Homo sapiens: one gene and its partners. The protein of the gene in region 7 purifies or fractionates together with the protein of the main gene of each other region. This does not show direct contact. Each region holds a gene or a part of one and is shown on either strand. Other genes may lie near its edges. The genes, in order: EPC2, SIM2, TXNRD2, MBTD1, BRD8, TADA1 and FOXR2.

Region 1 (3,500 bases), on a different chromosome or scaffold from region 7:
CCATGTTAGATGCTTTCTGTCAATCATTTCCTATTCTTCCTGCTAATAGAAACTTTAGGAGGATAGCACTCTGATGTTGCTGACCATATCATTCCCCTGTTTTCGTTCGGACATGCAGACATCTTTTGCTTCTGTCTTCCCCTTCATTTTATCCCTGTTACATCTTCAGCACTAAAAACCGTTTAAAACATAGAAGCACTCAGTAAATATTTGGTGAATGAAGGAGTAAAAATAGGGGTGGAGATTAGGTTGGAAAAAAGGTAGAATTAGACTAAATTATAGGCAGTTTTGAATGTTAGGCCTAGGAGTTTGTAGGGTGGTATAGATGAAAGACCACTGAAGTATGATTCTGGAGTTTTTGTTTCTAGTTCTGGTTGTCATGGATTAACCCATTTATGCCTAAGTGGGTTAAATGGCCATATAATTTGGAAGTTGCTTAGCTTTTCTGAGCCTCAGGTTGTTCATCACTACTATCTCAGCTAACATTTGAGTGTGTGTTGTTGAGTGTTTGAGCATGTGCCAGGCACTTTGTTAAACTTAATAGATGGTTTAGAGTTGATTTTAAGAGTAGGACATATAGGTGTTACTACTTCTTTTTCAGAGGAAGAAACTGAAACTTTAGAAATTAAGTAACTCGCCTAAGATCATCCGTCTAAAAAAGAACATGCTAGAGCCAGAATTTGCACTCAGGCTGATTGACTCTGGGGCTCTTGCTTCACCGTTGTACTGCTTCATCTGTAAAATGAATGGGTTGAGAACTAGAAGATATCTAAGGTCCTTTATAGCTTTACTGTTCTATCATTTATTTTCCCATTTAAAGTTCAAAATTCCAGATTCTTGAGATAGAGAGCGTTATTGGTCTGGCTTGCATCAGGTATCTACCTCTGAGTCTGCCATTCAAAGAGAAGGGGAAGTTAGTATACCTATGTTGAGAAGTGTTACCCTCTCAGCTGGAGAGCTGCCCTGAGAGATCTGCTACCGATGGTAATATAGCATGATCAAAAGTTAGGAAGTTAAAGTGTTAAATCATTTTAATCCATGATTTGTCCCAAGGTGAATTTGTATACTTAGTGTGTTTTTACAAACCATAAATTTGTAAGATGTTTTAATGAGCTTAGAATAATTTGTATGTGTTATGTTTTAAATGAAATTTGAATCAAAGACTGTAAAAGAAGTCTCCAGTGTCCTTTTAAAAAAAAGCAAACTCTTCACACTTATTAATTTTCAAAGTTGTAAGGGATGAGTTTTGTTTGACCGCGTAGAAATTATTTAACCTTCCTGGCCCTTAGTTTTCTCATTTGTGAAATAGAATTGGACTGAGTGACCTTTAAAGTACCTTTGACTCTAAAAATTACTTGAACCTCTGAAACCGCATGTCTATCTACTGGCATATTGTCCAGGATTATAATTAGATGAAAAGAACTAACAAATGTGACATTAAATATTGGGAAGAAATTAATGCTTAAGGTTTAACTCTTTAATACTGCTGAGATCCTGTCAATTTGGCTTATCGTTCTTTTATGAGGATCGATTATATTCGTCCTCTATCTAATATTAATTTTTCCTAGAGCCTAGTAGAGCAATCCATTCTGTGTATGTTTTGGTTATGATCATCTTGCTTTCATGAAATTTTCTTCACTTTACTAGGCTTACTCATTGCTGTAAGTATTCTGAAGTTCAGTAGTACTTTTAGTCTTTACCACTTGAGTTTATTTTAATTTTCTAGTATCATTTTTCTCACTTGAGTGTGTGTGTAATGGTGTGTGTGTGAATTTTATATATGTATGAAAAAGAGCATGTGCACGAGAGAGAGTAGACACTTATTTCCCCAACAAGACTAAATGTCTTGAGGGAAGGTATCATGTGTGTTTTATTCAGTACCCAAGACAGGCAGGATAGCAATCCAGGTACTTCTGTCACTTTCTGTCTTAAGTGATAAAAAGTTTGTAATACAGGCACTTAGCATGTTGCTGGTCACTTGGATTGAGTTTCGTTGTATTGGTAAACAATGCAGCTCTGCATCTTCATTTAGTTTTAAGTAGAGTTGAAGTAGAAAAACAGTAATGGGTGTGTAGAGACAGCATGAGGAGGAGAGGCTGATAGGAATAAGCCCTGAAGGAGACCAATGCAGATGGCAGAAGGTCCATCATGATTATTTGATTTTAACTTAAAGTTGATCATCGATTATTTGCCTTGTCTATACTATTTAAATGGGACAGAGCTTTAAATTTACATATTCTATCATGCAGAACCGCTTCTTACAGGGTTAACACTGTGGAGGAAGATGCCAGTCACTTCCAGTTTCTCCTCAGCAGTTTCATTGTATCTGTCTTCTTTTAGGTTTTTTGTTTTACTGTAAGCAGCTGTTGCTATAAAGTCAGAGGAATGCAGACTGGAGAGTCAGCCTATCTGCTACCTCTCTTAACTCCTATCTTTGCTTCCCTGCTTGCTTGCTTTTTTTTTTTTAAATGGGCTAAGGACGTGTCTCATGTCTTGGTTGGGGAGTCAACAAGCAGCATTCAGTTTTGCTGCTAATTTGGTGAAGTTGTTGGAACTTTGAAATTGTGATTTAGGTTCCAATCCTGGCCTCTGCCACTTGCCTTATGGGTGAGGTAAATTACTTAACCTCATTGAGCCCCATTTCCTCATCTGTTTAATAAGTATCTGAAAAGTTAGTTTTAAAGATTACTTTTTTTTTTGTTTTTTTTTTTTTTGGAGACAGGGTCTTGCTCTGTCACCCAGGCTGGAGTGCAATGGCGCGATCTTGGCTCACTGCAACCTCTGCCTCCCTGGTTCAAGTGATTCTCCTGCCTCAGCTTCCCAAGTAGCTTGGGACTATAGGCACACGCCACCACGCCCAGCTAATCTGTGTATTTTTAGTAGAGATGGGGTTTCACCATCTTGGCCAGAATGGTCTTGATCTCTTGACCTCGTGATCTGCCTGCTTCTGCCTCCCAAAGTGCTGGGATTACAGGTGTGAGCCACCATGCCCGGCCAAGATTACATTTTTTTGTAAAAACTTAAGTCTGTGTCTTATAGGCAACACTCATTTTTTTGGTAACAATTTTCACTTATACAGGATAACAAATATGAAGGTTGATGGAAGAGTAAAATGTAGAGTATTCCCATACATTATTCTGTGATAGAGTTTCACATTTTTTCTCATGCCAATTAAACATTTTTACAGCTTGAGGCCAGGAGTTTTGAGACCAGCTTGGGCAACATAGTATGGCTTCGTGTCTACAAAAAATAAAAACATCAGCTGGGTGGAGTGGCATGTACCTGTAGTCTCAGCTACTTAGGAGGCTGAAACTGGAGGATTCCTTGAGCCCGGGAATTCAAGGCTGCAGTGAACTGTGATAGCGCCACTGCACGCCAGCCTGGATGACAGAGTGAGACTGAGGCCCTGTCTCTTAGAAACAAACAAACAAAAAGAGAGAGCGCTTTCAAACATTACAAGTTAATATGTGTGTTTTCCTCCTTCCTTCTGTTTTCTGGCA
Region 2 (3,151 bases), on a different chromosome or scaffold from region 7:
GGTGGCTACCTGATTGGACGGCAGAGGTCTAGAGGCCACCAGGGGCCCTGGTGTTGGAGGGCCCCCGTCTGCTCTGATTTCTTCTGCCCGTCCCTTAGTGGAGAGGGGTGGTAACCACCCCGATCGGTTTCGCCGTGTCATAATGAAAAATAACCACTCCCATCTACTCAGTCCGATGCCTGACATTAAGTAGCTCCCTGGCTTGTGGGTTTTTTTTGTCTTTGTTTGTTTGTTTGTTTTTAAACACTATATGGCAAAATTTGTCTTCCTTTAATACCAAAAAGACTAGGAAGCTGATCGCAAATTGCCTCAAATTAGCACCTTTGGTCCACTTTTTATCAAGTGTGTGATAAGGAGATTGTTAACCTCTTTCACTTTTAAAATAGTGGTAAAAGTCAAATACCATGTGACAGCATTAGCCAGCTTCCGACACACAAATTCAAGTCAATCTCAAGTGGGTAATACTTTCAGCTGTTATCAAAACCCTTTGCTTTGTCTTCCTTTGCTTGGATGTTCTGGAGATCCCTTCCTTGGTTATATGAGGGGCCCAAGATGTTCACGGGTATGGCAGATGCAAATCTAAGGGATCCGTGGCTCCTGGGACAGGCCAGGTCAAAAGGCAGGGGTCCTGGCCCTGGTCACCAATGTGGTCTTTTCTAAGTTAGCTACTTCTGAAAAAACATGTCCTAGTGATTTCCAGAAAGGCGGCATTCTCCCGTAATCTATCTCTCTTCTCAGATTTGGGAAGAAATGTTATCTCAGCCTCAAGTCACAATACAGAGCAAGAGATTCCTAGGATTTGCAGAAAAAGCAGGATGAGGCCCAGAAGGAGCAGAGCCCTACCTGCCTCGAGAGAGGCGTGGAGGAACTTCCAAGAGCTGTCTTCTTAAGCAGGGGCTGGTGTGCTGCTTTTCTGAGGCACATCATCCTTTTTCTTTTTCTTTTTTTTTTTTGAGACAGTCTCACTCTGTTACCCAGGCTGGAGTGCAGTGATGTGATCTTAGCTCACTGCAACCTCCACCTCCCGGGTTCAAGTGATCCTCCTATCTCAGCCTCCAGAGTAGCTGGGATTACAGGTGCTCACCACCATGCCCAACTAATTTTTGTATTTTTAGTGGAGATGGGGTTTCAGCTTGTTGGCAGGCTTGTCGCAAACTCCTGACCTCAGGTGATCCGCCCACCTTGGCCTCCCAAAGTGCTGGGATTACAGGTGTGAGCCACTGAGCCCGGCCTGGGGCACATAATCCTGATGTCACCTTCACCCACATTTTAGTGGCACTGCAGGCATCTGCACCATCTCGGTCTACACTCTGAGCGGCAGTTAGGTCTCGGTGCAATGGGAATACATGTCCTGCAGCTAAACCTCTGTTCCCACCTTCCACCTTCTGCCTGGGGTTGGTCCAGCGAGCAAACAGGAGTCAGTCTGCGTCCTGGGGAGCTGGCGGTATCTCCGCAGAGGACATCTGCTTGCCTGCCACCAGGAGAAGGTGAAAGGCCATTCCTTTCTGTTGAACTAGCATGTACAGGGCAGGTCCCTACTGTGTGTCGTGTCCTTGGGAGTAGGCACATCACAGCTTCACCCCATTTTACAGGTGAAGAAACTGAGGCCTGGAGGGTTTGTGTTCTTTGCCCTGGGTTGGTGAGTGGCATTTCTGTCCCCAAGCCCACAAATTTCCACCATAGTTTTCCCCACTTCCAAAACTGGCATGGGAAAATAGCCAATAGGCCGTTTGTCTCAAATATTCACTTCTGGTTGGAGTGGAAAGGAATCTTGCAAAAGAAATGCAGCTGGGGTGTTCTCAGCACATGGGAGCTGGTTTTGAAAATCACTGTCCCCCTTTGGTTGGTGAATGTGGCCAGGATTTACGTGAAGGCCAGATACTCGGTTTTCCTTTGCCCTTTATACTGTCACTAGTGTCCCCGAGGCAGGCAGACTGCCATTTCTCACTCTCGAGGAGCACCTGCATTGAGAGCAAGAAAGCACAGCAAGCCCTACTTAGAAGCAGAAAGAGGGCAAGTTTGCCCAAAGCGTGAGGGTTCTGTCTCCATCTGCCACCCACCGCCATGGCTGCTTCGGCTCCCGGCCGTGCGCAGTCCTCCCACCTTCCCCACGAGCAGACCTGACCCACCTTCGTAGCTTGGCACCAGGCTGTGCCTAGCAGTGTTCGCCGGTGGCTCTGGAGGATTTTTAGCTGGAGACGAGCTGCTAGGCACTAGGGGGTTGGCATAATGCCACTGGCATTCACCGCTGGCTGGCAGTGTGCTCAGGAAAAAGCGTGCCACCTCACAAGGGGATCCTTGGGGCTGCCCGAACTTGGCCGGCAACATTGGCTTTTTGCTGCTGAAGACGTGAGAGTCCAGAGGGAAGTGTCCGTAATGGTAGGAGAAGGGCAGGCTGTAGGATGGCGTGTACAGAAGGTCACTGCTTTCTGAGTGGGGCTGCAGTTCTGGAGGAGCAGCAGCGCTTGCAGGGGGACTGGCTCTCCAGTTTCCGAGCTGGCCGCATTCCAGTTTGTCCATTTGGAACGAGCTGTATTGCTGCATGGCAAAGAAGATGGATGAAGGGCCAGCGAGGGGCCGGCAGGAAGCTGCCTTCCGGCCCTGCAAGAACCGTCCCGACGGGGCCCAACCCCATCCAAGGGCTGCCCCTACCCTCGCCACCACTGCAAGGTCCCACTGGGGACAGGCACACAGCGAGCGATACCCCAGTGACCTGCTCCCAGGGTGGAAAGAGATCCCCCACCCCAAGCTAACAAGACATCAGGCACACATGGACTCTTTCTTTCTTTCTTTCTTTCTCTTTTTCCTTCTTTCTCTTTCTTTCTTTGTTTTTCTTTCTTTCTTTATTTCTTTTTTCTTTTCTTCCTTCCTTCCCTTCCTTCCTTCCTTCCGTCTTTCCTTCCCTCCCTCCCTCCCTTCCTTTCTTTTCCTTCTTTCTTTTTTTTTTTTTTTTTGTCATAATGTGGAGGCCGTGACGTTCAACTGGTCTATCTGCTAATGACCACATTACCAAAGTTCACTTGGCACAGAACAAGTGATGGAGTCTTGCTCTGTCACCCAGGCTGGAGTGCAGTGGCACTGTCTCAGCTCACTGCAACCTCCACCTCCCGGGTTCAAGCGATTTCCCTGTCTCAGCCTCCTGAGTAGCTGG
Region 3 (3,500 bases), on a different chromosome or scaffold from region 7:
CTTAGCCTCCCGAGCAGCTGGGACCACAGGCGCATGCCACCACACCCAGCTAATTTTTGTATTTTTTGTAGAGACAGGGTTTTGCTATATTGCCCAGGCTGGTCTCAAACTCCTGGGCTCAAGCAATCTGCCTGCTGCGGCCTCCCAAAGTGTTGAGATTATAGGCGTGAGCCACTGTGCCTTGTGGACATTAGCTTTTTTTTTTTTTTTTTGAGACAGAGTCTCGCTCTGTCACCCAGTCTGGAGTACAGTGGCACAATCTCGGCTCACTGCAAGCTCCGCTTCCTGGGTTCACACCGTTCTCCCGCCTCAGCCTCCCGAGTAACTGGGACTATAGGCACCTGCCACCACGCCCAACTAATTTTGTTTTTGTATTTTTTAGTAGAGACAGGGTTTCACCGTGTTAGCCAGGATGTTCTCGATCTCCTGCCCTCGTGATCTGCCCACCTTGGCCTCCCAAAGTGCTGGGATTACAGGCATGAGCCGCTGCACCCAGCCAAGCAAAATGGATTTTAAAAATGAACTCTTACAAAACTTTGTTCTAATCTTGCTTTCTAATAGCCACGAATCAAACACTTTCCTTGGCATTTTAGGGTTCATGAGATTTGTGTGTGCCTTGGGAGGCAGTCAAGTCCAAGGCCTGAAGTTTGCTGATGCAGTGCCCAAGCCCGGGCAAATGGAAGCTTGAAATTAGCCCTAGCTAATGTTTTTTTTTTTTTTTCTTTCTTTCTTTTTTGAGACAGAGTCTTGCTCTGTCGCCCAGGCTGGAGTACAGTGGTGTGATCTCTGCTCACTGCAGCCTCTGCCTCTTGGGCTCAAACGATTCTCTTGCCTCAGCCTCCCGGGTAGCTGGGGCTACAGGCTTGCACCACCACACCTGGCCAATTTTTTAATTTTTATTTTTAGTGGAGACACGTTTTACCATGTTGGCCAGGCTGGTCTTGAACTCCTGACCACAAGTGATACACCTTCCTCAGCCTCCCAAAGTGCTGGGATAACAGGTGTGAGCCACCATGCCCGGTCCTGGCTAATGGTTTCTGAGTTGGCCCCAGAACCTGTGGCCCTGGGTGGCCACACTGCTGGCTGGGAGGGCAACTGGGTGGCTCTGCAGCGGGAAGTGTGGTTTGGAGTCAGGTCTCGGCTCCTGCTCTGGGGCTGGTCCACCCTGGGGCTGCTGCGTCACTTCTCCTGAGCTTTGGTGTCCTGGTCCTGAGAGTGAGGCAGCGAATGCCCACCTAGGGGGCTCTGGCTGGGATGGGAAGGGGCAAGGGAGAGCCTCTGAGTCAGGAGCCATTCCCGGTGAGTGGCTACCTGGGGGATGCCACCCAGGGATGCTTGGGTGGGCACTGGGCTTATGGTGAACGTGAACATGCAGGGGCAGGTGGGGCTGATGCCAGCACTGTGAGGGGTGGATGGTACAAAGGCTGCGGGCCCTGAGAGGTCTGAGGGCTCCTGCCTGTGGGCAGCGCAGCTGGGTGGGCAGTGCCAGAAAGAGACTGGAAGACTCAATGCAGAGCCAGCAGGCAGCGCAGCTCAGCAGGCCAGAGCGCAGAGGCAGATCAGGGGTCCCTAGCATTGCGCAGCTCAGCCACTGTGTGGGCAGCCGCAGGCCCAGGCCCTGCCCACACTCTTCTGGACCTCACAAGCCCTGAGGAGTGCCTGTTCTTGAGTCCTGAGCCAGCTCCCCATGCTCACCTGCTGCTCTCCTTATCCTTCCAGCCGCCCAGCTGGGAAGGAAGGTGGCCGTGGTGGACTACGTGGAACCTTCTCCCCAAGGTAGGCAGCACCCTATGGGAGCCGGGTGTCCTGGGGAAGGAGGTGGGAGGTGGGCCCAGTTCCTGTACAGAGGGCAGCTGACACCAAAGTCCTTCAGCCCTGCTGTCCATGGTTTCTGGACAGTGTCCTGTTTCACTCATCATTACTTTAAAGTTCTTGACCATTATCGAAAACAACTCTGGCCAGGTGCAGTTGCTCACGCCTGTACTCACAGCACTTTGGGAAGCCAAGGCAGGCCTTGATCACTTGAGCCCAGGAGTTCGAGGCTATAGTGAGCTATGATTGCACTACTGCACTCCAGCCTGGGTAACAAGAGCAAAACTCCATCTCAAATAAATAAATTAATAAATATTAAAAAGTAAAAACAACTGTTTTTATTTTCGAGTACAGTTATAGAGAGCAGATTCGTGTGGCATGTCAGCTGGTCTGTGTTAGAGTTACAAAGCAACTTTAAGGAATTCCAAACACTCTAGAAGAACAGGGAAGCCTCCAGCAGTCACCTGAACATAAATTCAAATGTGCTCTTCCCACGTCCCAGGCACCCGGTGGGGCCTCGGCGGCACCTGCGTCAACGTGGGCTGCATCCCCAAGAAGCTGATGCACCAGGCGGCACTGCTGGGAGGCCTGATCCAAGATGCCCCCAACTATGGCTGGGAGGTGGCCCAGCCCGTGCCGCATGACTGGTAAGGATCTGGCGCCGTGGCATTCCAGTGCTTTTCTTCTACTCTTGGGTGGAAGAGGAAGAGGAGGCTTATCCTCGATGAGCCCTCATGGGGAGTGGGCCGTAGGATGGGTTTCTCAGCCAGGGGCGACTCTGCGCTGTCTGCCTCAGACATTTGGGAATGTCTGGAGACAGTTTTGGTTGTCACTGGGGAAGGGTTTGCTCCCCTTTGCGGGGAGCCCAGGGATGCTACAGCCATGCACAGCACAGCCCCACCAAGAACAGTGCATCTCCAAGGCCAGGAGTGCGGGTGGGAGGCCGCTTCAGCTGAGCTCTTCTGGGAAGGGGACCACGTGGCCCAGCCACACCCACATTGGCTCAGATAGGCCTCTGCCTGCAGTGGGTAGCCTTTGGGGCACAGAGCAGCTGCATCTGGAGAGCCGTGGGTCAGAGCCCCTGTTTTCTGTGAGTCCAAAGGTCTGCAGCCCTGAGCCTGGGACAGGCGGTTGCACGTAGGGATGGATGTCACGTTTTGCCACCTTTAAAAGCACTCTTGTTTTTTGATATTTCTATGAATGTACCATTTGAATCTAATAGTCCATCGTGAGGCCCTGCAGCTAACACCTGTGTTGTGGATTTTACATTTTGTTTCGTATCTTCACAGGAGGAAGATGGCAGAAGCTGTTCAAAATCACGTGAAATCCTTGAACTGGGGCCACCGTGTCCAGCTTCAGGACAGGTACTGAAGCTCTCTCCGGGAATGGGCCGCCCTCTGGGCCTTCTCTTGGGCGTTCTGTGCCTGGACACACACTTACTTACTGTGCAGAGCATGCTCTGGCAGGCTCTGGGGGTTCATGTCCTGCTCATGGGTGGGGATGAGGACAAGGAGCAGATGGGAGTGACTGTAGGGGAAGGGGAGACTGCCCTTTGCTGCTGAGCAGAGCCTGGAGGTGCTGCCAAGGAATGAGTGAGGCCACATTGGCAGAATGGCCAGAGCCCAGGGCTGCACAGGGAGGAGGCGCTTGGGGCTGGAAGGCCTCAGGCCAGAGAGCGTGGACATAGC
Region 4 (3,500 bases), on a different chromosome or scaffold from region 7:
CATTGTAGTAAACAGAAAAAGAGAGCCACTTTTGCGTTAGACTAAGTAGGCACACCAGTGTTTCTAGAGAGGGGAGGGAAATCTGTGTAACATGGAGGAATTATTGCACTCAGCAGTATAAATCATATAGGCCAGGTGCAGTGGCTCACGCCAATAATCCCAGCACTTTGGGAGACTCAGGTAGGAGGATTGCTTGAGACCAGGAGTTTGAGAACAACCCGGGCAACATAGGGAGACCCTGTCTCTACTAAAAACAACAAAAAATTAGCCTGTCACAGTGGCATGTGCCTGTAGTCCCAGCTACTAGAGAGGCTAAGGCAGGAGGATCACTTGAGCCCTGGAGGTTGAGGCTGCAGTAAGCCTTTGAGGGCACTACTGCACTCCAGCCTGGGCGACAGAGCAAGACCCTGTCTCAAAAAAAATAAAGTTGATCATATAACCTATGCTCTTAAGATTTTTTGTACTGTTACTTTTTGTCTGCATTTTAATATTATGCTAATTTTAAATGAACTGCTAGTTAAACCAGTTGTGTTTTTTAGGTTACACAAAACTTCCTTTTAAATGGTTTGACTACCTCAGGGAAACTGGCTCCATTGCAGCACCAGTAAAACTATTTAATAAGGTAAATTTAAATGGCAGCATAATTATGTGAGGACTTATTAATGCCCCACAAATACAATTTATGTTCATAAAAATGTCTTTGCCTTGTATTAGAATTTCTTAGTGGAGATATAATATAAACAAATATAGCAATGAAACAATATAAATATTTTCTTTACCTAGGAATCAAAACTTGTTTCCAAACTATGTTTCGTTTTTAATCTGAAGGAAATAGAAATGAAGATTTTTCCTAACTAGTTTTTAAATACTTCACCTTCGTACTATGTTTAAATAGTTAAAGAATTATTTGGAATTTATGGTTTATAATTATGTTATTTAGCTAGTCGCTTCTGTTTTTTGCTTTCTTAGTGATAGTAGGGTTGTGCATTCTTTCTTCTTCATACCAATATTAATGTTTTCTTCTCTGTGTCAGGATGTTCCAAATCACGGATTTCGTGTAGGAATGAAATTAGAAGCAGTAGATCTCATGGAGCCACGTTTAATATGTGTAGCCACAGTAACTCGAATTATTCATCGTCTCTTGAGGATACATTTTGATGGATGGGAAGAAGAGTATGATCAGTGGGTAGACTGTGAGTCACCTGACCTCTATCCTGTAGGGTGGTGTCAGTTAACTGGATATCAACTACAGCCTCCAGCATCACAGTGTAAGTTGGTATACAGAAAAGGTGTCCTTTTGTAAAAATCAGCAATTCTCCAGAGGACTATCTCACATAAGTCATCTTATGAGCTCACAGGACAAGAATATACCTATGTCTGATTGGTTGCCAGGTAAGACATTAAGACTCAACAACAATATCACAGAATCAGACCATGTGTCCCATGGCAATGTGAATCCAATAGTCAATTACATAATGACTATAGAAACACAACAGTCACCAAATTAAACTAGACTTACTATTTTAGTGAGTTAAAAATTACATACTAAAAGTTTATTGGTAGGTAATAAATGCTTTTGAGTAAATAGTGGAAAATGTCTCATGTTGAGGCTATGGTTTTGTAGGAACAAGTACCCTTATTTTCAGAGCATCATGTACTTAAGTATAATGGTCTTGGTAAAGATAGTTCATATAAGTTGTATCTAGACAACTGTATCGTCTAAATTGTAAACAATTATCTAGTACCAATTTTCCCTTTTTATTTTTCAGCATCAAGAGAAAACCAATCAGCTTCATCAAAACAGAAGAAAAAGGCTAAGTCCCAGCAATACAAAGGACATAAGAAAAGTGGGTCACCACGTGGTGTTCACATACATTTTCTAATTGTTAACTAATTGGAGTCACAGTATTCTTGGACAGAAAATGATATATCTTGTGAGAACTGATGATTGTGCATTATGTATTATGCTTAAAGGTGCAGTATGCCATAAAAGGCAAACCCTTGCAATAATGAGAAACACTGATATTTTACTAACAGGAGAAATTATTACCACAGTATTTAAAGTATACGTGGTAAAGAATAGAGTCTGTGAATGATTCTTGAAATAATATGTAAAACCTACTGAAAGTTAATCCTTTTTAAAAACTTTATTTAAAAAGAAAAATTAGCAGCCAGGTGCAGTGGCTCACGCCTGTAATCCCAGCACTTTAGGAGGCCGAGGCTGGCAGATCACAAGGTCAGGAGATCGAGACCATCCTGGCTAACACGGTGAAACCCTGTCTCCACCAAAAATACAAAAAATCTGCCGGGCGTGGTGGCACACGCCTGAAGTCCCAGCTACTCAGGAGGCTGAGGCAAGAGAATCACTTGAACCCAGGAGGCAGAGGTTGCAGTGAGCCAAGATCACGCCACTACATTCCAGCTGGGCAACACAGCAAGACTCTGTCTCAAAAAAAAAAAAAAAAATTAGCAGATGCTTGATGCTTACAGTAGATGTGAAGCCTAATAAACCCATTTTTCCTAGAAAGCAAAACTTTCTAGAGTGATACTGGTAAGAAATCCAAGTTGATGGCAAACAAGCTTTACCAAATTTTTCTAGAAATGCTTTCTATACTAAAAAATTAGCCGGGTGTGGTGGTGCACGCCTGTAATCCCAGCTACTTGGGAGGCTGAGGCAGGAGAATTGCTTGAACCCAGGAGGCGGAGGTTGAGGTGAGCCGAGATCGTGCCATTGCACTCTAGCCTGGGCAACAAGAGCAAAACTCCATCTCGAAAAAAAAAAAAAAAAAGAAATTCTTTCTATACTATATTTTACCTTACAGTGAATTGTTGGCATAAGCCAAAGTAATATAAAATATATTGATAACTATGTTTGATTTTTTTTATCTTATTTCCCCACCATAGAAAGCCATAGCTTTCTCTCTTCATAAAACTTGTCATAGAATGTTTCATTCTTTTTTGAGACAAGGCCTTACTTTGTTGCTCAGGCTGGAATGGAGTGCAGTGGCACAATCTCCGCTCACTACAGCCTTAACCTTCCCTGGCTCAAGCAGTCCTCCCACCCCAGCCTCCTGAGTAGCTTGGACCACAGGCATGTGTTGCCACACACCCAGCTAAGTTTTGTATTTTTTTGTAGAGACAGAGTCTTGCCACGTTGCCCAGGCTGGTCTCAAACTTTTGGGCTCAAGCACTCTGCCCACCTCAGCCTCCCAAAGTGCTGGGATTACAGGCATGAGCCACCACACATGGCCATATTTCATTTCATTCTTAGATAAGGTTATATATATATATATATATATTTTTTTTTTTTTTTTTTTTTTTTTTTTTTGAGACAGAGTCTCAGTCTGTCGCCCAGACTGGAATGCAGTGGTATGATCTTGGCTCACTGCAGCCTCGACTTCTCGGGTACAAGCAATTCTCCCACCTCAGCCCCTGGAGTAGCTGGGACTACAGGAGTATACCACCATGCCCAACTCGTTTTTATATTTTTATAGAAATGG
Region 5 (3,500 bases), on a different chromosome or scaffold from region 7:
TTAAGAGCTGTAACACTCACCGCCAAGGTCTGCAGCTTCACTCCTGAAGCCAGCGAGACCACCAACCCACTGGGAGGAACGAACAACTCCAGAGGCGCCACCTTTAAGAGCTGTAACACTCGCTGTGAAGGTCTGCAGCTTCACTCCTGAACTCAGCGAGACCACAAACCCACCGGGAGGAAGAAACTCCGGACACATCTGAACATCCGAAGGAACAAACTCTGGACACACCATCTTTAAGAACTGTAACACCACGAGAGTCTGCAGCTTCATTCCTGAAGTCAGCGAGACCAAGAACCCACCGGAAGGAACCAATTCCGGACACAATACTACAATCAACCAATGTTCATAACTTCCATTTGGATCGACATCTGTGCCTTACTATACCTATAACTAACTGAATAAATACAGGGTTCCTTTTAAAGTTTTGCTCCAAAAGAATAGTGTCAAAAACAACCAAAGGCTAATTTAAGATTATAATTAATGATCAGGCTGGACACCAAGGCTCACACCTATAATCCCAGCCTTTGGAAGGCCTAGGCAGGTGGATTGCTTGAGCTCAGGAGTTCAAGACCAGCCTGGGCAACATGGCAAAGCTCCGTTTCTACAAAAAATACAAATATTAGCCGGACGTGATGGCTCATGCTTGTAGTCTTAGCTACTTGGGAGGCTGAGGCTGGAGAATAGCTGAGCCTGGGAAGAGGATGTTGCAGTGAGCCAAGACTGTACCACTGCACTCCAGCCTGGGCAACAGAGTGAGACCCTGTCAAAAAAAAAAAAAAAAAAAAATATATATATATATAGAATGGATCATATTACTTAAAAGTCAATAGTACAAAATAAAAAGCCTATATCATCCTTTTGTTCCCTGCATTCCTTCTTAAATGAAGATATGATACTGAGCTCATCATAACTTTATAAACTTGTTTGGCTATGAAACATATCTTGAGTTTGTAAGTTATAAAAATAATCTAACAGATGGGAAATAAAAAATGAAAAGGCAGATATAAAAGCAACCAACCTTTCTTGACCCCTTTTTCACTGACCTTTTCACCACATCCTTGTACCCTGGGGCCTGCCTTTCTGACACAGGCTTCAGAAATGGACTGCTGAACCTGTTAAGGGACAAACCCAGAGAGGATAAAGAAACCCTGGCAAGGCACTCTGAAGGAGAAGAGTAGCTCAGTTCTTAGTAGACTTCCTTTAGGGGAATGCAGACTGTCAGCACCATTAGGAAAAAATCTATTTGTTCCCTCTTGCCAGAGAGTTAAAAAAAACACAAAACTATAAAATATTTCACTATTATTACAATATACTGATTTAGGGCTCAGAAATTTGTTCAAAGTTCCCAAGGCCCTGTCTCTGTGAAAAAAGAGAATCCACCAGATTGAAAAGAAGAATATACATTTTAAATATAAATTTTATCATGTAGTAGGAACCAATTTCTAGAGGCAACTCAAATGGCACAGCAACTATTTCTTGTACAGACTTGTGAAAGCAGCTGTGGGTACTTTGGGATAAATCGGGCTTAGATACAGAATCTACCTTTCAACTATGGCTCATTTGAGGGATGAACATATCTCCTTTTATGCTTAAACCCCAATATGTATTACTGCTTCAGCTCTGAACATAATCCTATTACCACTTTGGAGACCTACCTGTGACTGGCAATCATCTTCCAGACTGGCAGGAGAGTCTTCTTAAATAGCAAATGATCCTGAACAGGGTCATCCTGGCTTAGATCAGTCCTATGAGGATAAAACATGAAGAAAAGAGACAGTAACTTCACAAATAATATTCTATCTCCCCCAGGTGGGTAATGAGGTTTTCTTAAGACATGCTCCTAATTAATATCTGAAGCTTTTTATCTCCCCTTATCTGGCCAAGCAGACTTAGTTATTAATATCTATTGTTTTCTCTTTTAATTTTTTAATTTTATTTTTCTGAGACAGAGTCTTGCTCTGTTGCCCAGGCTGGAGTGCAGTGGCATGATCTCAGCTCACTGCAACCTCTGCCTCCCGGGTTCCAGCGATTCTCCTGCCTCAGCCTCCCAAGTAGCTGGGACTAAAGTTGCATACCACCACACCCAACTAATTTTTGTATTTTCCATAGAGACGGGGTTTTGCCATGTTGGCCAGGCTGGTCTCAAACTCCTGGCCTTAAGTGATCCACCCGCCTCAGCCTCCCAAAGTGCTGGGATTACAGGCATGAACCACCATGCCCAGCCAATTTTTTTTTTTTTTGAGACAGGGTCTTGCTCTGTTGCCCAGGCTGGAGTGCAGTAGTGTGATCGTGGCTTACTGCAGCCTCAACCTGCTGGGCTCAAGCGATCCTCCTGCCTCAGCCTCCCAAGTAGCTGGGACTCCAGGCACATGCCACCACGCCCTGCAGCTAATTTCTGTATTTGTTGTAGAGACAAGGTCCCACTACGTTGCCCAGGCTGGATATCTACTGCTTTCTAATAAAGATTTCATATTTAATCTAAATTGTAAGGTAAGAATGTGGAATTTACCATCCAAGACTATGAACTGTCATGAGATAAGATGTCTCAGATTGGGCCCGGTGTGGTGGCTCACGCCTGTAATCCCAGCACTTTGGGAGGCCGAGGCAGGCGGATCACAAGGTCAGGAGATTGAGACCATCCTGGCTAACACGGTGAAACCCCGTTTCTACTAAAAATACACAAAAAATTAGCTGGGCGTGGTGGCGGGTGCCTGTAGTCCCAGCTACTTGGGAGGCTGAGGCAGGAGAATGGTGTGAACCTAGGAGGCAGAGCTTGCAGTGAGCCGAGATCACGCCACTGCACTGCAGCCTGGGCGACCGAGCGAAACTCCGTCTCAAAAAAAAAAAAAAAAAAAAAAAGTCTCAGATTGCAGATTTCCTGCTGTTTGTACAGTCACAGTATGTCATCTCTGCACTCTATTGCTCATACTTAAGGAGTTAAAGAAAAGCAAATGAAGGCATTCCTCACCAATCTACATTTTAAACTGTATCCTATTTGTGTACCAAAAATTGAAATCTAGGCTGGGCACAGTGGCTCAGGCTTATAATCCCAGTACTTTGGGAGGCTGAGGTGGGATTGCTTGAAGCCAGGAGTTCAAGACCCAGCTTGGGCAACAAAGCAAGACCCTGTCTCTATGAGAAAAAAAAGAAATCTGCTCTTCAAAAAATATATATATATATATATTCATATATAAATATATGCATGGTTCAGCTGTATATCTTAAACAAAAAAACACTAGAATAATTATTAGTTTTACCTTTCCACAGACAACTGGGTGGATCTGGGATATACTGAAGAAAAAAAAAACAGTTCATACTATATTCTCTCAACAGATGGATCTGACACAGGCTGGAAAAAGAACAATTTATTTATTACCATAACAAAAATAACTTTGCTGGACGTAGTGGCTCATGCCTATAATCTCAGCACTTTGAAAGGCTGAGGCAGGAGAATCACTTGAGGCCAGGAGTCACAGATAAAAACAACTTTGTTTTTC
Region 6 (3,500 bases), on a different chromosome or scaffold from region 7:
CAATTACTAGCTGGATAAGGCCTAAGGCAAGTTTTTCTTTTGTTTTGTTTTCTCTTCTCTTAATTTTGTTTCCTTATCTATAAAAACAGGCTAACACCTACCATGCAGAATTGTTGTGAGGATTAAAGATAATGCATATAAAGTGTCTAGTATGCTATACTCAACAAATATTATTATTAATATCATCTTTCCTGACTAGCTTAGAAAACTAGAAAACAACCCATCCAAAATTGTGAGGTACAAACAACTATATTTTACTTGTAATAGAAATCTTCTCTTTGTTGCTAACAAATATTAATTTCATTTTGAGAAATTTGGGGTGTTCAATGGAAGAATACATTCTCAAAATCCAAATGCTTCTTCATTTATTTTAAAATAACTATTAACAACCATTCAGAATATCAAAGGTTTTTATCTAATTAAAATCAGCCACCTGTACTTACGAATACCACTTCAACATTTGTTTGGCAATTTTTTTTATTTTTATTTTTTTTTTTTGAGACAGGGTATTAGTCTGTCACCCAGGCTGGAGTGCAGTGGCGCAATCTCGGCTCACTGCAACCTTCGCCTCCCAGGTTCAAGCAATTCTCCTGCCTCAGCCTCCCTAGTACCCAGGATTACAGGTGCCTACCACCATGCCTGGCTAATTTTTGTACTTTTAGTAGTGACGGGGTTTCACCATGTTGGCCAGGCTGGTCTTGAACTCCTGACTTCAGGTGATCCACCCACCTTGGCCTCCCAAAGCGCTGGGATTACAGACATGAGCCACTGTGTCTGGCTGGCATTTTTTATTTTTAAAATCACTTTTTTATAAGTTCTTTCATCTGTTTTTTCATAATCCTACGGGGTAGATATTGCTGTACTTATTTTATAAATTTGAAAGCCCAAGTAACTATATTATGTAAGCTAGTGGCAAAACCTACACTTGAACCTAAGTCTCTTGACTCTTATCAACCAGGGTTTTTACTTCTGATCACTCCATTTATCTTTGGCATATGTGGCAATTTACAATATGCTTCCCTAAAAAGTAAGATTCACAATATTGGCTTTTCTGATCAAATTAAATTTTATGTAACAAAATAGATTATGATTTAACTTTGGACATAAAAGAGGAATGGCTAAAGTCTACTTGTATATAAATTAAATAGCACATCAAAAATCTGACACAGTGTAAGAATGTGCGGTGATGAGTGTGGTGAGGGGAGGGAGGCAGTCACTGCTCTCTAAAACAACCCCACAAGCAGGTGCTCACAGTTTACTACACATTAACAACGACTTCTTTGAGGGTCAAAGAACGAGGTGTTAGGAGATCTTATGTGAATTTTTTTTTTTTTTTTTTAAACACAGTTTCACTCTGTCGCCCAGGCTGAAGTGCCGTGGCACAATGTAACCTCTACCTCCCAGGTTCAAGCGATTCTCATGCCTCAGCCTCCTGAGTAGCTGGGACTACAGATGTGCGCCACCACGCCCGGCTAATTTTCTTTTTTGTATTATTAGTAGAGTAGGGGTTTCACCATGTTGGCCGGGCTGGTCTCGAACTCCTGACCTCAAGTGACCCGCCCGCCTCAGCCTCCCAAAGTGCTGGGAATACAGGCGTGAGCCACCACGCCCTGGCTTGAGTTCTTTATCATACAGTAGAAGTAAACAGAGAGAGAGGATTAAAAAATACCAGCCATTTATAGATAAAACATGAGCTTTCGATATATGATCATCAGAATCACCCTAAGCCCTTAAAAAAATTTCAATTTAATCTACAACAGGAGTTGGTAAGCACAATTGTAATGGTAACTTTTGTAGTCTTATGAATAGATATAAATTGCAATTTAGAAATATAAAAACTACTGAATAAATCATTTGGCCTAATTTTTTTTAAAAAGTCCAGTATGACTTTTATCATGAGGAAAGTTTTCAATGTATTTAATTACTTGTTTTTGACTGATTAAAATAAGATGGTTGAGAGAGGTGACTTACAGCTTAATCTTCTCTTCAGGTTAAAGTGACAGGTTTCGTTTCCACCTACCCCCTCAACATGCTACTATCCCCTACCTCTTGTTATCTACCAATAATCTGTGAAACACAGGTGCTGAAGCTTGACCTTTCAGGTGCTATCTTACCTAAGAACATAGTGGAAGTCCAGGTTCCCAACATATGCTGGGTTCCCCCACCTCCCCACTACGGACACCTTTCAAGTTAGGTATCCCTTAGGTACAGGACACCTAACACCAACTGCCCTCTCTTCATCTCCCTTACCTTCTTCATCCTGATCTCCCACCCTCTTCCTCACTTCTCATTTACTTAAGTAATCTAAAATGTAGCTGAGTGGGGACTCAATATCAAAAGGTAATATAAGTACAGGGACATAACCTGCTTTACAAGGCTCCGTAGATTTGGGCAGTCCCTGCTGTGGTGCTCACCCTGCGCCCTCTTGTTCCCGGGCTATCTCCTTGCTTGCCTTCTGGCTCTCTCAAGCCCTATTCTGAGGGACACCACTATTTCCCCCATTGAGCAAACTGGCCTGCGGGGGAGGGTGGCACACAGAGCAGCCTTGCCCAGCTCTCCCAGCATAACACGCCCGGACCAAGGGGTCCACGGGGGCTAGGACTTGGACATGCCTAGGATTACACAATACCACCTAGGGAGAAAGCACTTGTGAAAACAAACATTCAGACAGTCCTTCCTTCTGGGTGTTAGAAAAGAGTAGTGCCACATCTGGCTTGGCTGAAAAACACTTTACTGATGTAGGAGCTGGCATCATAAGATGAAGATTATAGAGGAAGTGTTGGTGTTGTACAATTCAATTTTGGCAAAGAAAAGTTTGGTGTCAAAAATGGTGATCAAATTGCATAGCTCATTTGTGAACAGACTTTTTCTCCAGAAACAGAAATTCAAGCTTTGGATGACACTGAAAGGGGTTCAGGAGGTTTGGGTTCCACTGGAAAGAATTAAAATGTATGCCAAGAACTGAAAATGAGAAATCATACCTTTTTCTTAAAAATAAAGAGTTTCTGCTTTAAAAAAAAAAAAAGATTCTGTAAAAGAATTTGTATCTACCTAATAAAACTTTTCTTCTGAGTAGTTCAAAAACATCTGCTTTACAAACACTAGCTGTGTCTATTAGAGAAAGCTAAAGTCTAGTGCTTTGCTGACTTACACACACTGGAAGTATTTCCACTCCCTTACCTGGTGTAGAAACCAAAATCTGACAACGCGTGAGAATGGCCAGGAGGAAATCATTGTGAGAATGGACTGAAAAAGGAAAGATAGTGACAATCAAATTCAAAACATTTTCAACATAAGGAAACCACAACTTTGGTCTAGCTTCTCAAGATTTTGGATATCCCCTATTCTGCCATGCTTTATACTTAAAGTATCCACATTATTAAGATAACCTTATACACCACAAAACCAAAATTTTACTTTTTAAAAAGGGAAAAGACTTTACTACAAATCTAGGAAAACTACAGAATAGTAAAATAACTCTGCAGATAATTATTTTACCA
Region 7 (3,971 bases):
TGACTACTTATATGCAGAATATTTTATTAATTCCAAGGTATTCTGTTAACTTGGTCTTTGCCTTATGATACAGAAGTAGCATTTACAATTTTTTTCAAAAAATACTGTTTGCATATGTTGTTTTGTGATTTAACCTAAATATACAATTTTGTATGAGGTATAATACATCATTATAAAAATGTGAACTTTGAAAATAGTTACAATTATATTGAATTAATTGCTTTTGTAGCTTACAGGCGTTTTTGTACCCCCATTATGAAGGTTTTGCAACTAAATTTATACCTAAAAATCTATTTTCTCCTGGATATATGTTAATATCATTGAAGCAAAAAGCTATGCTTAAATCTGATAAACAAAAGTTTATTTGCATAGAAAAGATGTTAAAGATAATTTTGAAATTAGAAAAACAAATGCTGTAGTGTTTGTTGTTGCTGCTGGCTTGTTTCTTTTTTTGTTTTTTAGCAAAACTCCACTGATGTCTCTTGGCTCCTAAAAACCCACAAGATGAAGTCCAAACACCTAATAGTTTTCTCTTAGTCACTCACGGTCCTCATGTAGTTAAGTCACACTGAACTTCATGCCATTCCCCCAAACACTCCATCCACTTTGTTCACATTGTTGTCTCTGTAATGCCTCTACTCCAGTTTGCCATTTATTCTTCAAAACTAGCTCAAAATGTATTTTTTCCAATGCCCTTTCATGTCTTTCCCAGGAAGAATGTCTCCCCATTTCCATGTCAATTTCTCACATCTGTTTCATCATATTTACATTATAAATATGTCTCCCACTAGTATCCCTCAGCTTTTTATCCTCAGCATCTAAGATGGACCTTGACACATTAGCATATCCTCAATAAAATCTTGAGAACTAAAAATAATAGAAAATAAAGCTTTATCATCAAAAGGCTTGGGGTTAATACAGGAATATTTCACAGGACGTTAAACATACAAACTAAAAGTAGCTGTTTAGAATTATTTGTCAATATTGGAATTGGATGACAAAGAAACAAGGCTTAGAAGTCCAGGGCCAGAAATAGAAAAGTGAGGTTCTGAAGGATAAAATGGGTTACTTAAAAAGGAGATGTAGCTGATGAATGGTAGAAGGGGAAACTTGATTCTTCATCACAAGTCAAATTCTCTTCACATGGCACTCGAGGTTCTCCATGGCTCGGCTCCATCCTGCCTTTTATGCTTTATATTCCACTGTTCACTTTCATGTGTGAAAATACTCTCTATAAACAAAATTCCTTTCTTTCACAAAACACACCCTTCTTTCCTTAGTTTCTATGCCATTGTTTCTAGGATTTCTTTTCCTTTGCTCAAAATTTGGAACAACAGCCACTCTCCTCGTGCGACTTTCCATGACTCTCCACCTGGATTTAAGTTCTGTCTCCCCTGTACCCACCTCTAACTTTACTTAACACCATTATTGTAACAGTAGCTAAAGACAGACTTGGCACCAACCAGGCTGGGTAAGTTTAGAGATTAATGAATGTCAGGGGATAAGTAGGCACAGTAAGGAAGGCAGTGTTCCAAAAGGGAGCAATGGCATTTCAAAGATCAAAGAGAGAGGTCAACAACTCTGGCTGACTCATGCACTCTTGGATTCTCTCCCTTTGAGCAAAGGCTAAGACACGAGTCTCCTCCCAAAAGCGGCGGTGCCCCTCCTTAGTGAGCTTCCAAAGGCAAGAGCGAGGTCTTGCATTATCTTCATCCTTAAGGCTGTCTGGCACCTTCTCAAAGCTGTCCAGGAAGCAGAGGTTGTAATGAATGGTGCTCTTCCAGCCATCCGGAGCTGTCCAGAAAAAGGGGAAATGCTGTCGGGTGAAATTGTAGATCTCCTGCACACTGAGGCCACAGTGGGGGTTGTTTCTTAATGCTAGGGCAATAAGGTGGCTACAATTGAGAGGGGGCCTTTGCCAGGACTTCTCTTGGTTGTTGATTTGCCATAGTTTCTGGCTCTGGTAACATTTCATTTCAGGGGACTGGAGGGAGTTGTCGTCTGGTTCCTCAGCCTCCTCTTCTGTGAGCTCAAAGTCACTGGGGGAATGGATACCCTGCTTCTGTAAAGGAGACTGCTCACTGGAGGAAGATGGCAGAGACTCTACCACTTTGTCCTCTGAGCAGTTAGACCCTTCGTCTTTTTGTGGGGGCTGAGGGAAAGGAGAAATGTTTGTCAGATCCTCTTTTCCACTGGGCTTTGGGGCCTCCTGGCTGCCAAGGGGGCACAGGATATTGGGGTCCACCCACATCCACAGATTGGGTTCACAGGGAGGACCATCTCCATCAGGACTGGGTCTCCTCTTCTGAGGCATTTCTGGGGGCTTCATTACTCCGACTCTGTATTTGGCAAGGATTTGCTCAGCTAAAGAGCACTGGTCTGTGGTACAAGGCAGAAATAACTCATTCCTCATGTCCCAGTCCAGCAGCCCTGGGACCTGGCCATGGAGACTATACCAAAATTCACAGTCTTTTAGTTTTAAGTCCATCTTTACTGGAGAGATAGGTGGAGAGAGACTTCTGAAAGAACAGATATCTAGCAGGCACTTAAAGCTGTCCTTTGGGCATCATTTTTTTATGCAGTGTATCTCATCTAGGGAGCTTATCAGTAGGCCTGCTAGAAGCACTGAAGAAAGAGGCACCAATGTCTCACTGATTAGTGGTCAGACCTGGAGAAACCTCAGCTTTCTGGAACAAGGCTCAAAACATGGAAGTAATAAAAAAGAGCTTTTGAGCAGAAAAACATTTTTAGGTGGAATTCTTGAGCTTTGATTGGAAGCAGAAAGTCACTTCAAGAGGAATTATAAACTGAATTATGTGCAAACTATGGTGACTTGCATAATAGGTGATCATCTGGCACATATTTAAACCCTTGATGAGTTCATTTAAGGAAGGGACAAACATATGTATAGATCACATTATATTTCTGAGTCTTCCTTAATGGTTTTAAAAATCATTTCATTCATCGAGTGCCTTTGGATTTTGGTTAAGTGCTTTCACATAGATGATCTCAACTGATTTTCATCACAGCCCTGCAAGATAACATGGTATTATTATCCTCATGTCACAGACATGGCAACTGAGATATACAGACATGAGTAAGTAGGAGAGCTAGATCCACAGCCCAGATCTTTTATTTTCACTATACGCATTGCCTCTTGATCATACTCAACATACGATATACAACAGGCAGTAATATGTGCAACCTGAGTTTTATAGTAAGATGGTAACTATCAGAACATGGCCTCTATTATTCTCATACTGATACTAGAATCTAACCTTGCTGCCGTTTTCAATCCTTTTCTGGGAAACAGCTGGCTTTCCTCTCTCCAGGTCACCTTCTTAGGAAATGAGTTCTGAACTATACTCTGAACAGTAGGACCAAAATTTAGCCACAGTATGCAAGGTCCTGAAAGCCCCAGAGGTTCTATTTCCAGTAAGTTCACACCCAGGACATTTGTAAGAAAAATAAAATGGCAAGGTTTCCTTTAATTCAGTTTGCACAAAATCCATGTGTAAAGTATGCGATATCATTAAAATCACTACATAGGACTATGTTGCAAACATATCCAGCAAATGTCAATGGGAGCTATTGGAGAGGCACTTTAATCTCCATATTGTTTCCATACTCTGGTTCTCTTCTACTCTAATCTTTCATACAAGTGGCCTGAGTTGTCTTTCTACAGCATAAATACAAAAAACAACACAACAGTTGTACCAACTGTTAATTATTACAGAATGCTGTAAGCACTCTAACTCAAATCTTCAAAATAATCCTATGAAGTAGGTACTCTTATTATTCTTCCTTTACAGAGTAAAAAACATAAGGCACAAAAAAGCCTAAGTCACAGAGCTAGTAAAGGCCAGAGCTGACTTTCAAACATAGGCAACCTGACTGCAGAACACATGCTTTTACTAACTATACCAATCTTCTCTATTTTGGTGTTATAACATAAAATCTTATAACTTAAT

Evidence for each region.
Region 1: the proteins of FOXR2 (region 7) and EPC2 purify together in Homo sapiens (affinity purification with mass spectrometry; 3 studies listed by BioGRID and IntAct, with this or other methods). This does not show direct contact.
Region 2: the proteins of FOXR2 (region 7) and SIM2 purify together in Homo sapiens (affinity purification with mass spectrometry; 3 studies listed by BioGRID and IntAct, with this or other methods). This does not show direct contact.
Region 3: the proteins of FOXR2 (region 7) and TXNRD2 purify together in Homo sapiens (affinity purification with mass spectrometry; 3 studies listed by BioGRID and IntAct, with this or other methods). This does not show direct contact.
Region 4: the proteins of FOXR2 (region 7) and MBTD1 purify together in Homo sapiens (affinity purification with mass spectrometry; 3 studies listed by BioGRID and IntAct, with this or other methods). This does not show direct contact.
Region 5: the proteins of FOXR2 (region 7) and BRD8 purify together in Homo sapiens (affinity purification with mass spectrometry; 3 studies listed by BioGRID and IntAct, with this or other methods). This does not show direct contact.
Region 6: the proteins of FOXR2 (region 7) and TADA1 purify together in Homo sapiens (affinity purification with mass spectrometry; 3 studies listed by BioGRID and IntAct, with this or other methods). This does not show direct contact.

Annotation. Positions count from the first base shown.
Region 1 is NC_000002.12:148,651,251-148,654,750, forward strand, and holds part of EPC2 (enhancer of polycomb homolog 2), read left to right. Parts: intron 1-3,500. UniProt on the Homo sapiens protein: May play a role in transcription or DNA repair.
Region 2 is NC_000021.9:36,744,115-36,747,265, reverse strand, and holds part of SIM2 (single-minded homolog 2 long isoform), read right to left. Parts: intron 2,539-3,151; coding exon 2,130-2,538; coding exon of another isoform or gene 1,993-2,129; exon of another isoform or gene 942-1,992; intron 1-941. UniProt on the Homo sapiens protein: Transcription factor that may be a master gene of CNS development in cooperation with Arnt. It may have pleiotropic effects in the tissues expressed during development.
Region 3 is NC_000022.11:19,917,819-19,921,318, reverse strand, and holds part of TXNRD2 (thioredoxin reductase 2, mitochondrial isoform 5 precursor), read left to right. Parts: intron 1-1,719; coding exon 1,720-1,776; intron 1,777-2,314; coding exon 2,315-2,459; intron 2,460-3,101; coding exon 3,102-3,176; intron 3,177-3,500. UniProt on the Homo sapiens protein: Involved in the control of reactive oxygen species levels and the regulation of mitochondrial redox homeostasis. Maintains thioredoxin in a reduced state. May play a role in redox-regulated cell signaling.
Region 4 is NC_000017.11:51,190,550-51,194,049, reverse strand, and holds part of MBTD1 (MBT domain-containing protein 1), read left to right. Parts: intron 1-539; coding exon 540-622; intron 623-1,033; coding exon 1,034-1,268; intron 1,269-1,769; coding exon 1,770-1,847; intron 1,848-3,500. UniProt on the Homo sapiens protein: Chromatin reader component of the NuA4 histone acetyltransferase complex, a multiprotein complex involved in transcriptional activation of select genes principally by acetylation of nucleosomal histones H4 and H2A.
Region 5 is NC_000005.10:138,144,131-138,147,630, forward strand, and holds part of BRD8 (bromodomain-containing protein 8), read right to left. Parts: intron 1,749-3,500; coding exon 1,659-1,748; intron 1,116-1,658; coding exon 1,047-1,115; intron 1-1,046. UniProt on the Homo sapiens protein: May act as a coactivator during transcriptional activation by hormone-activated nuclear receptors (NR). Isoform 2 stimulates transcriptional activation by AR/DHTR, ESR1/NR3A1, RXRA/NR2B1 and THRB/ERBA2.
Region 6 is NC_000001.11:166,866,265-166,869,764, forward strand, and holds part of TADA1 (transcriptional adapter 1), read right to left. Parts: coding exon 3,499-3,500; intron 3,247-3,498; coding exon 3,181-3,246; intron 1-3,180. UniProt on the Homo sapiens protein: Probably involved in transcriptional regulation.
Region 7 is NC_000023.11:55,622,229-55,626,199, reverse strand, and holds FOXR2 (forkhead box protein R2), read right to left. Parts: upstream 2,801-3,971; 5' UTR 2,489-2,800; coding exon 1,553-2,488; 3' UTR 8-1,552; downstream 1-7.